Homo sapiens: one gene and its partner. The protein of the gene in region 2 interacts with the protein of the main gene of each other region in a pairwise test. Each region holds a gene or a part of one and is shown on either strand. Other genes may lie near its edges. The genes, in order: RTN1 and CMAS.

Region 1 (7,526 bases), on a different chromosome or scaffold from region 2:
CCTGGGATAATTTTAATTACCATCAATGTATAAAAATAAATAACAGAATATCTGTCCAGATGGCATGATTGGTGATGTTTTTCAGAAAAACAGTTATTAAAACATCAATATCTGTCTTATATTTCCATCTAAAAAAGAAACAAAATCTGTTTACAGTGCATCACACTCAAAGTCTAAGTTACTTCTTAGTTTGAGTTGAGTCCCAAAAAAGCACCACTCTTTTAAAAAAATAAAGCACTCTTCTGCCATGTGGGGACACAGTGAAAAGACAGCTGTGTGTGGACCAGGAAGCAGACCCTGACCAGACACCAAATCTACCTTGATCTTAGATTTCTCAGCTTCTAGCACTGTGAGAAAATAAATTTCTGTTTATAAGCCAAAAAAAAGTAAATTAAGAAATACAGTGTAAAGTAGTGTGCTTAATAGGCATCTCTGATACAATTGAGGGCTCACCTGCTAACTTTGCTTATAGCAATAGAACTGCCAAAATAACAGACCAGGAAGCTGGACAAGATTTGTTTGGAATTTTAAGATCTAGTTATTTATTTATACAGCATTTCTGGCGTTTGAGTCTCTTATAGCAGCACATCCGGTCTACTTAATAAGAAACACAGAGATTTAAGACATTAACCAATCAACAACTATATCAGAAATTCCTTCTAGCCACAATCATAAACTAAAAAATTTCTATATAAATATGCAAAATATGTGCTCCTTCCATCTTTCTTCATTCTTCTCCCATCCAAACGTAGTATCATGTTTGATTTTATTACTATATTTGTTGCCTAGGATAGAAAACCCCAAACACATTCAATAAAGCAAGGTATTTCTATAATAATAATACTAAAAATGCAAAATGCATTGTTATTTACTACAGCCACCTTTCTGTAACAATGCACTGTACATTTTGAAATTGCTAAAAGAGTAAATTTTAAACGCTTTTACCACAAAAAAAAAGTACATGAGATGATGGATTTGTTAGCTAATCATTTGACAATGCAGACATATGTCAAAACATCACACTGTACCCCACAAATATATATTCTAAGCATTTCCTATATAATAACTTTTGTGGATATGTTACTGAGCATGGGGCACTTAGCTTCCTTTTTCTAGTTCACATAATCTTAGTGGCACTAATAGGAGGTGGGTAATGTTTCATAAAGAAACAATTTACTTTGATTACAGTGGATAAAGATTCTGAACTATGAGCAGTCTATCCTCAACAAAGAATGGTAAAGACAAAAACTACCTTCCTTTGTCTATTATCATTTGCCATCTTCTTTTGCAATTATAAAGAGTTTTGTTTTCACTTGGATGCAGAAGTTGAAAGAGAGACTGAGCAGCCATTCTTAGATTTAAATCCTCCCCCACTCCTAGGGATATAATAATTAATATATAACCTTTGGCGTTTGGCGTTGGGGCTTTTGAGTACTTTTCTTTCTTTCTTTTTCTTTTTTCTTATATAGGGTCTCCACTTTTTCTCTTCCTTTCAGGATATTGACAATTTTTATTCAACGCATTCTCCAAACCTCTTTTCCCCAGCTCAGATCTTCTGTACCAGGGCAGTTAATTACGATTACCTTAGACATTCCACATAACCCTTAAGAGAAGCTTACGAAAAGGGGTTTCTTTAAATCAACCACCAAGAGCACACACACCAGTCCCACTCCCCTTCCCCTCCTCTGGGAGCACCCCCCACCCCAGGCCTTCTAGCTCTACATTGCCAAAACTACACAACTCCCACTCCACCATAGCAAAGCTTTCTCAGGAAAGAGCACCACACAGCATCCCCTTTCCTCTCCCTGGAAACAGCGTTAACCAGGCCGGCAGCCTCAAAGCGCGCTTCCTGGATCCTTTGACCAGGATGCGCCAGGGGCCTGGGCTCCCGCTGGACACTGGCGCGCTCAGACTTTGAATAGGGCGTCAGGCGAAGAATGGCCAAACCCAGGGCAATTTCCGGGGTGGGGGGGGGGGGGCGCTTAGACTGCTGGTAAACTGTACCACGTCCACTCACCACCACCCAAGCCCTCCAACCCACAGCCAGGCCCGCCGCACTTAGGACTTGAAGTTTCAATGCTCCCTGCAAGGTGGGGCCATCCGGGCAGCGGCGAAATACAGGTTTTGGGCGGGGGCAGCCACAGCACCCAACCCTCTTGCAAAGCTGTGCCTCCCGAATTAGGGACAAACTCCCTGGGATTTGTTTTCTGCGGGAGAAAAGGCGGAGGGATGTGGGGGGAGTAAGGTGTGGTGGCGATTCGTGGAGGGCAAGGGTAAGGGGCAGTTACAGCCACATCTCTGCCCTGGACAGAGCCGGGTCCAGGGGCCGCGGGCCTGCCCGCCGCTCGGTTGTCAGCATCTCCTGTAGCCGGCGCGCACACTGCGCGCAAACACGCCCCCCAAAATCCCCACAACCTGTCAAACGGGCCCTACAGCTCGGAGCCTCCTGGCAGGAGGGAGAAACTTGTACCCAGACTCGCCAGCAGCCAGAATGCTGCTGTTTGCCTATGAGAACAATTTTTAAAGCGGAAATAATCATGATAATGAAATAAAAGGATCAAAAGCATCTTGACTTTTTCTGAGCCTTTGGGAAAAATAAAATTGTTGTTTTCTACCAGCCCGCGAATATTCCCAGTCGCCCGTGGCGACGCGGGGGTGGGGTCGGCGCTCAAGGCAGAAAGCGCGAGGCAGGTGCCCAGGAGAGCCGCGCAGAAGGGGACTGACTGGGGGGCCCTGGTCCCCGACGCCATTTGAGGGGCAGCGGCGCCCGCCTTACCTGTGGATGCAGTTTCCATGGCAACGGGCGACTGCCGGGCGGGGCCCGAGCCGGCTTCCCGCGACGCCGCTTCCCGGGCCCTGGCGCCCAACCCCGGGCTGGGCTCCCCAGCCTGCGGCGCCGGCGTGGCCCCTTTCGGCGTCACCGCTTCGTTCTCCCCCTCCCCCCGGTGCCTGAGCCACTGGGACCCGGGGCCGGCCAGCGGCAGCAGCTCGTCCTGCGGATCCCCCGGCGCGGCCATGGCTGGCGGTCCCCCGGCGCGGCGACGGCGGCTTGGCTGGGCAGAGGCTCGGTGGCTGCGCGGGCGCTCCCTGCTGCTGTCCCCGGAGGGACTCGGCGCTCAGGGAAGCTGCGGTGTCTCAGCGTCGCCGCCGCCTCTGCTGCAACTCCGCCGAGCCGCTGCCTGCCGCTCTTCCCGCTTCAGCTCCTCCTTCTCCCCCCTCCTCTTCCTCCGGCCCCGCCGCGGCCGCTGCCTGCGCTCCTCCTCCTACTCCACTCGCTGCTGCCGCCGCTGCTTCGCTATTCCCAATCCTGTTATTACGCAGGTGAAAATGGCCTGCTTGGTCCGGGTCCTCCTGGGCACGTCAGCCCCCAACCTGCAAATGGCAGGCCCCGGTTAGGGGATGTGCCAAATCCACTCGAATCTTCCTCTCGTTTGGGGAGGAAAAAAAAGGAAGAACCAGCAAGTAGCAGCAGCCACCAGCAGCGTCGCCTTCCCAACTGAGAAAGTTAAGCCCCGACTGGTGTCCTGGGTCCCGAGGCAAAGAGGGAAAGCTAGAGAACTCAGGGCCACAGTTCTGAGAGTGACCAGTATGAGTTGTGGAGGGGACACAGGTCTGAACGGGGAAGGGGTGGAGATGGGTTCTGATGGCAGATGGAGACCAGGGAAGCTGCAACCCCGCGGTTAAATCCTGCGTTTCCAGAATGGGCCTGAAAATAGTGGAGTAAAGAAATGAGTTATCAGGACAGCCTCCAAAAAAAGCTTAACAGATCTCACCCTGACCAGCCCTGAGGGCAAACAGGGTGTCAATAGGCAAGGACAAAAGCTGTACATTTGCTTTCAGAAACACTGAGCCAAGGCCATCCTAATCATAAGCTGTCTGTGCAGTCCGTTGTATTTCAGAATTTGGACATTCCATGAAGCTTGCATCTTTTTCTTTACAGTTCACTGTGATAAAATGGAAGATAGTCAGCAAATAAACCCAAACTCAGAGGAGGAAAGTGACTTGCCTTATCATATGTTGTGCCCATACGAAGACCCATCTTTTCAAATGTCTTGTGTTTTATTGGTTCCCAAGTTGTTTATATAATAAAATAATGTGCCTTTAAAAACTAAGATTCACCACAACACACAGGGTGAAGGAATAGGTTTTTCTGCTGTTTCTTCTCTAGGAAAGGTGGGCGCAGACGGTACCGCACACACTGTGAGACTGTGGGACTCTTGGCCACCATGCGCATCTTGAGGATTTCATACCTGTCCATTGGTATATTCAAAGGCCAACTTCAGGACCATTCAGGTGCTCCTCAATAATGCTAAAATGAAAAAGCCCAGAGTCTGCCTAATCTTTTGTTCTGCTAGTGCACTAATGTTCAAAAGATGACAATAAATTAGAGAAAAATCATTCACTAAACAATAAATATGGCCTCCTGAAGCCAGATATCCCTGGAAATCTGATGGTCACCAAAATTTTACATTTTTGACATACTCAAAATTATGTCTCATGATGGAAATATTCACTATCTAGATTGTGGTTATAGCTTCACAGGTGCAAACATATGTCAAAACTTATTGTTTACTGTAAATATGAACAATTTAATGTGTTGTCAGTTATAACTCAATAAATCTATAAAAATAATCTCATCCAAAAACAACAAAATAATTGGTTATCATGAATCATAATGATTTTTAAACATCTTTCCATGGGAAAACAAGAGTGTATTTAAAAAACCGTTAAGTTGAAAAGCTTATTCCACTGCTGTATTTCCATGGAGCTTAATCCTGTCTTGTAATTAGAGGGCACTTGTAAGTTTTTTCAAATCTATTACTTAGTATTCCCTAAAGCATCAGAAATACTAGATGGGAATTTCTCATGGTTTTATTACTGATAACAAGACAAGAACATAGACAATTCTAATGATATAACCTTAAAGTGGTTATTGATGAATACTAATATTTGAGAATTGCTATGCAAAGGAGTTACATACAAAATAATATGAAGTATATTCTTTTGTTTCTCTGAGAAACATGAATGAAAGTCATCATTAAAAAACTGGGAGACCTAAGCAAGCCTCTGTGTTTCCTTATGATTAATAGATAGGAAGTTTGGGGATATGATTCTAATTATTTGTCAATTTCTTTCATACTAATCAATACTCTCATTGAGAATGTGTGAAGGAAATAGCCAGTTAAATCTATTTAGAGTGTAGTTGTTAAAGGAAATTGAACATTATTGACAGTTCCATTTTGATAAAGTATTCTATTTTACACTGCTGAAAAGAGATGAGCACAAGATTTCAGTGTTAGCAATTTTCATTACTAACTTTCCTTATTAGACTCCACCTTTGGATGTATAAAAATTATCTATTTGGGGGAAGAAATTTTCAGGTTTATGCTATGACTTGAAATGATTCATGTTTATTAATATTATTTATTTTGCACCGCTCTGAACTGACAAAGCTTGACTAATTTGAAGATTTATGGGCAAAACACACAGTCGGCAATGGGATTCTGGGGCTTACATAGTTGCTCTAAGTTACGAATTACTCTAAAATGCTTTTCAGACACAGAGAAAATAGGATTGTCACTTTTAAAAGGTTCTTAGCAAGAAGAGTTGAGACAAAAGAACTGTCACGTTTTGTTTTCAGCTTTTGTTTTTTGGAAAAGAAGTTTTGTTCATCATTTGAAAAGAAGAAATGAGGAGCATTTATTTAGCACTAGCTTCTTAACTTAGTCCAAACCATATATCATGGGGAAACACGGTGTGGGGACATGCAGGAAGAGCGCCACAAGTAACAAGCTTTAACCAAGATGAAATTCTTTCCAGCCTCAATATTAAAGTTACCTAACATCTCTACAACCCAGGTTCCTCAACTGTAACCTGGAGATTTTTTTTAAAATTTTTGTGGGTGGGTACATAGTAGGTGTATATATTTATGGGGTATATGAGATATTTTAATACAGGCATACAATGAATAATAATCATATCATGGTAAATAAGGTATCCATCACCTCAAGCTTTTATCCTTTCTTTGTGTTACAAACAATCCGATTATAATCTTTTTGTTGTTTTGAAATATAAAATAAATTATTGTTGACTGTAGGTGCCCCATTGTGCCAGTGAATACTAGATCTTATTCACTCGTATCTAACTATATTTTTATATCTACCATTAACTGTCCCACCTCCATGCCCCTCAGGCCCCTGCCAGCCTCCCAGCACTACACTTCTTGGCCTCTGGGAAACCGTTCTACTCTCTATCTCCATGAATTCAACTGTTTTAATTTTAATTTACCACACATAAGTGAGAACATAAGAAGTTTGTCTTTCTGTGCTTGGCTTATATCACTTAACAGATGTCCTCCAGTTCCATCCATGTTGTGCAAATGACAGGATCTCATTCTTTTTTATGACTGAATAATAGTCCATTGTGTATATGTACCACATTTTCTTTATCCATTTGTCTCTTGATGAACACATGGGTTGCTTCCAAATTTTGGCTAGTGTGAATAATATAGTGCTGTGATAAACGTTGGAGTGCAGATATCTCTTCAATATACTTTTGCTTTCTTTTGGGTATATACCCAACAAACAAACAAAAACAAGAAAACATTGAAACACTGGGGAAACTCTCCAGGATATTGGTTTGGGCAAGCATTTCTAGAGTAATGCCCCATAAGCACAGGCAACCAAAGCAAAAATGGACAAATGGGATCACATCAAGTTAAAAATCTTCTGCACAGCAAAAGAAACAACTAAGTGAAGAGACAACCCACAGAATAAGAGAATAAAATTGCAAATTATCCATCTGACAAGGGATTAATAACCATAATATATAAAAAACTGGGATTGCTGGATCATATGGTAGCTCTAGTTTTTTTAATTGGAGTCAGATGACATCTCATTGTAGTTCTGATTTGCATTTCTCTAATGATCAATGATATTGAGCACCTTTTCATATGTCTGTTTGCTATTTATTTGTATGTCTTCTTTTGAGTAATGTCTATTTAGATATTTTGCCCATTTTTAATTGGATCATTATATTTTTTCTTAATAGAGCTATTTGAGCTCGTTATATATTATGGTTATTAATCCCTTGTCAGATGGATAATTTGCAATTTTTTTCTCTTATTCTGTGGGTTGTCTCTTCACTTAGTTGTTTCTTTTGCTGTGCAGAAGATTTTTAACTTGATGTGATCCCATTTGTCCATTTTTGCTTTGGTTGCCTGTGCTTATGGGGTATTACTCTAGAAATCTTTGCCCAGACCAATATCCTTGAGACTTTCCCCAATGTTTCAATGTTTTCTTGTTTTTGTTTGTTTGTTTGTTTGAGACTGAGTCTTGGTCTGTCACCCAGGGTGGAGTGCAGTGGCGTGATCTTGGCTCACTGCAACCTCCACCTCCCAGGCTCAAGCAAATCTCTTACCTCTGCCTCTCGAGTAGCTGGGATTACAGGTGCCTGCCACCATGCCTGGCTAATTTTTGTGTTTTTAGTAGAGACGAGGTTTCACTATGTTGGCCAGGCTGGTCTTG
Region 2 (3,259 bases):
AAATTAAGGTATATACACTGTTTATCTGGGCATAATGCTACTGCACACTTAATAGACTACAGTTTACTTTAAACATAACATTTTATGTACCTGGCATCCAAAAAATTCCTATGACTCGCTTTATTGCAACGGTCTGGAACCAAACCCGTAATATCTCTAAGATATTCCTGTATGCAAAATTACCATTATCTCTCAGGGGTAACTGCAAATAATTTGCTTCCTCCAAATAAATACATAATCTTCATAATATATAAATTTATTTGGATATTTGTATTTGTGTATACTGCTGATCCTTGAACAACATGGGTTTGAATTGTGTGGTCCACTTTTATGTGAATTTTTTTAACCATGTGCAGATCAAAAATACATGTGAATCATGCAGTATATGGAGGGCCCACTTTTTGTATATGTGGGTTCAACAGTGTTGACTGTGGTACTTGAGTATGCACAGATTTTGGTATATGTGGGTGGTCCTGGAACCAACCCCCACATAGACCATATGCTGTTACGTATACATATGTGAAGTACAATCAGATGCTCTACCCCGGCATCGAGTGGCTTGTTTCTCACTAAGATTGGTTAATGTTTAAAGGAAAGAAAGAAAATGCATGGTAAATTTCTTCTAGAGCAACAAGGCAGTTTTCATCAAGTTTGAGAAATGTAGTTTTATTAATAGAAGGGCATGTCTTACCATACACACTGTCCCCAGATAAATAAAATCCCAACATCTTTGAAAGCACACAAACACACAGTTTTACAGGGTACAATACAAAGTGAACTTTGATGATGTTCTTACTTGCATTTACTAAAAATCTGAGAAAGACTGTAATCAGTCTCTAAATAATTATCTTGCGTAAAGAGAAAAGTAGAGCACAATATATATATATCACAAACCAAATCACACTCTCTGTAACATTACAACATGGAATTTACTTAATCAAAAATAAAAGCAAACTGGCTGAAGAAGGCTGTATCATTTTTTTCTCAATATTACGCTAATTTCTATTTTTGGCATGAATTATTAACCTTTTCCATTAGTAGGCAAATGTGCTCTGCAAATTCTCGGATGGCACCACGGCCACCATTACATTTGCAAATGTATCCAACAGCCTTCTGGGCAGTAGAACAGGCATCAGCAGGAGCGCCACTTAGGCCCACTCTCTTCAAGCACTCTTCATCAGACACTTCATTTCCTATCAAGTAAAATAAATACTGAGCAAACATTTAAAGAGACAAAGAATATTCTAGCTAAATAATGCAGACAGCAACCAACAGGTAACTCTGGCAACTTCAGTAAGACCTAGGGGCACTGCATATAAGAATACTAAAGATTAGATGGAACAAAAATATTTTACAGTATAATTGAGGTCCAGGGTTTTCCCTAAGCAATCAAAAATAAACTCTTATGAGCTAGAGAAGAAGAATGGAGCATAATTGCTACCTGCCATGCATATTACAAATGTTAGAAATTTTATATATGAATTCTAAGTAAGTTATTTAAATTTTTCATTAAGCAAAATTTCAAACATATGCGAGAACCCCAATTTTATATTGAAAAATTATCAGAATTTAAAATCACTTAGTAATATTGTTTTCTATGCACTGCCCCCTAGTTTATTTGGGGAAAGGGAGAAGAAGGAATTCCCAGACATAATATTTTATCCAAAAACTCTTCAATATTTATCTCTGATAAATATAATTTTTTATCTGACAGAATATCATTAAACCCACAAAATCAGTAATAGTTCCTTAATATCCTCTAATAACCTAGTATATGTTGAGATACCCCCAGCTGTCTCAAAATTGTCCTTTTATAGCTGACTTATTTGAATCAGGAATGAAATAAGGTTAACATATGGTCTTTTGTTTATATATATATAATCTCTTAAATCTCTTTTAATCTGTAATGGTTCTGATTGGTATGCCATTTATTAATAGTTGCTGAAAAATTACCATTTTTAAAGAATAAAAATAGATACTAAATCATACTGACATAACGATATCCTTTTCCTCCCTCTCTGTTAACCCCTTTTTTGGAATAGGATGCATTTCAGAAGCTCCCAGTATCTTTAATTCACCATTCTGAGTAAAACTATTACTATACTTTAGACCACATACAATAGTACAATCTTGGTTGAAGAGAGTTTCTTTTACATTTGTTCTATGCTTATCTACTGAAATTTTCTCATTTATTATTAAATGTGTTGAAATTTGAATCGTTTTCACTAAAATAAAAAAAGTTAGTATTTGCATAATCCAGCCTTTAAGCTCTATTTACTAAATTTTACTTATAAAAGTATTGATTTTTTTAAGAAATATATTTTTATACACTTATGTCACCCATATAAAACATTGGTGAGTGAGTTATTATTTTTTTTTTTTGTAGACATGGGGCCTCACTATGTTTCACAGGCTGGTCTAAAACTCCTGAGCTCCAGGGATCTGCCTGCCTCCGCTTCCCAAAGTGGTGGGATTGTAGGCATGAGCCATCATGCCTGGCCTGCTGTGAGTTTTAAATAAAAATGTAAATGCTCTTCTCCATTTTCTTACCTCTCCTTTTAAAGTGTGTGTGTGTGTGTTTTTTTTTTAATGTCATATAAGTAATACGTATTCGTGGTAGAAATATTTTTTTAAAAAATAGAAGCAAAAAAGTCACAATCATCCTAATTATCACTATTTGTAGATAATCACTACATTTTGACACATATAATTCTAGAGTTTTACCTATATAAATGATACACTTATTACTATCTGTAGGCACTATGTTAAGCATTTTATATTATCTTTGTTTTTCTTTCTAATGGCTTTATAAAATTTGGTTTGTGTTTATATTCTAAGTAGAAAACTAAGGTATACAGAAGCTTGCTTAACATCCCAAAGAAAGATAATAAGTATAGTTGGAATTTGTTATACATTCCACTAAAATTTTCTTCTAATAAAAATTGGATCTGTCTTTAACAAACATTCTGCAGCATTTATGTCCATTAAATCTTCATGTGTGGTTTAAGGGTTATTCCTGAAGTCTCTAGATCACATGCTCCCAAAGTTTTTCCTGTGCTTCTTATTTTGAGGCTCATATTACCCTTGTAAATACTGCTTTCATACATGATTTATAGTTATTATGCATCTTAATAACTTATCAATTTTAAAATGTTGACATCATCAGACTGTAAGCTCTGCAAGCAGAAAGCCTACAGTTCCCACAACCAGTTCCATGCTGCGTATCATCATAGGTACCTGGTAAGTAAGTGTATTGCTT

The links.
Region 1: the proteins of CMAS (region 2) and RTN1 interact in a two-hybrid assay, tested with the Homo sapiens proteins (one study listed by IntAct).

Annotation. Positions count from the first base shown.
Region 1 is NC_000014.9:59,867,614-59,875,139, forward strand, and holds the start of RTN1 (reticulon-1), read right to left. Parts: upstream 3,164-7,526; 5' UTR 3,018-3,163; coding exon 2,777-3,017; intron 1-2,776. UniProt on the Homo sapiens protein: Inhibits amyloid precursor protein processing, probably by blocking BACE1 activity.
Region 2 is NC_000012.12:22,063,055-22,066,313, reverse strand, and holds the end of CMAS (N-acylneuraminate cytidylyltransferase), read right to left. Parts: intron 2,542-3,259; exon of another isoform or gene 2,387-2,541; intron 1,194-2,386; coding exon 1,003-1,193; 3' UTR 646-1,002; downstream 1-645. UniProt on the Homo sapiens protein: Catalyzes the activation of N-acetylneuraminic acid (NeuNAc) to cytidine 5'-monophosphate N-acetylneuraminic acid (CMP-NeuNAc), a substrate required for the addition of sialic acid.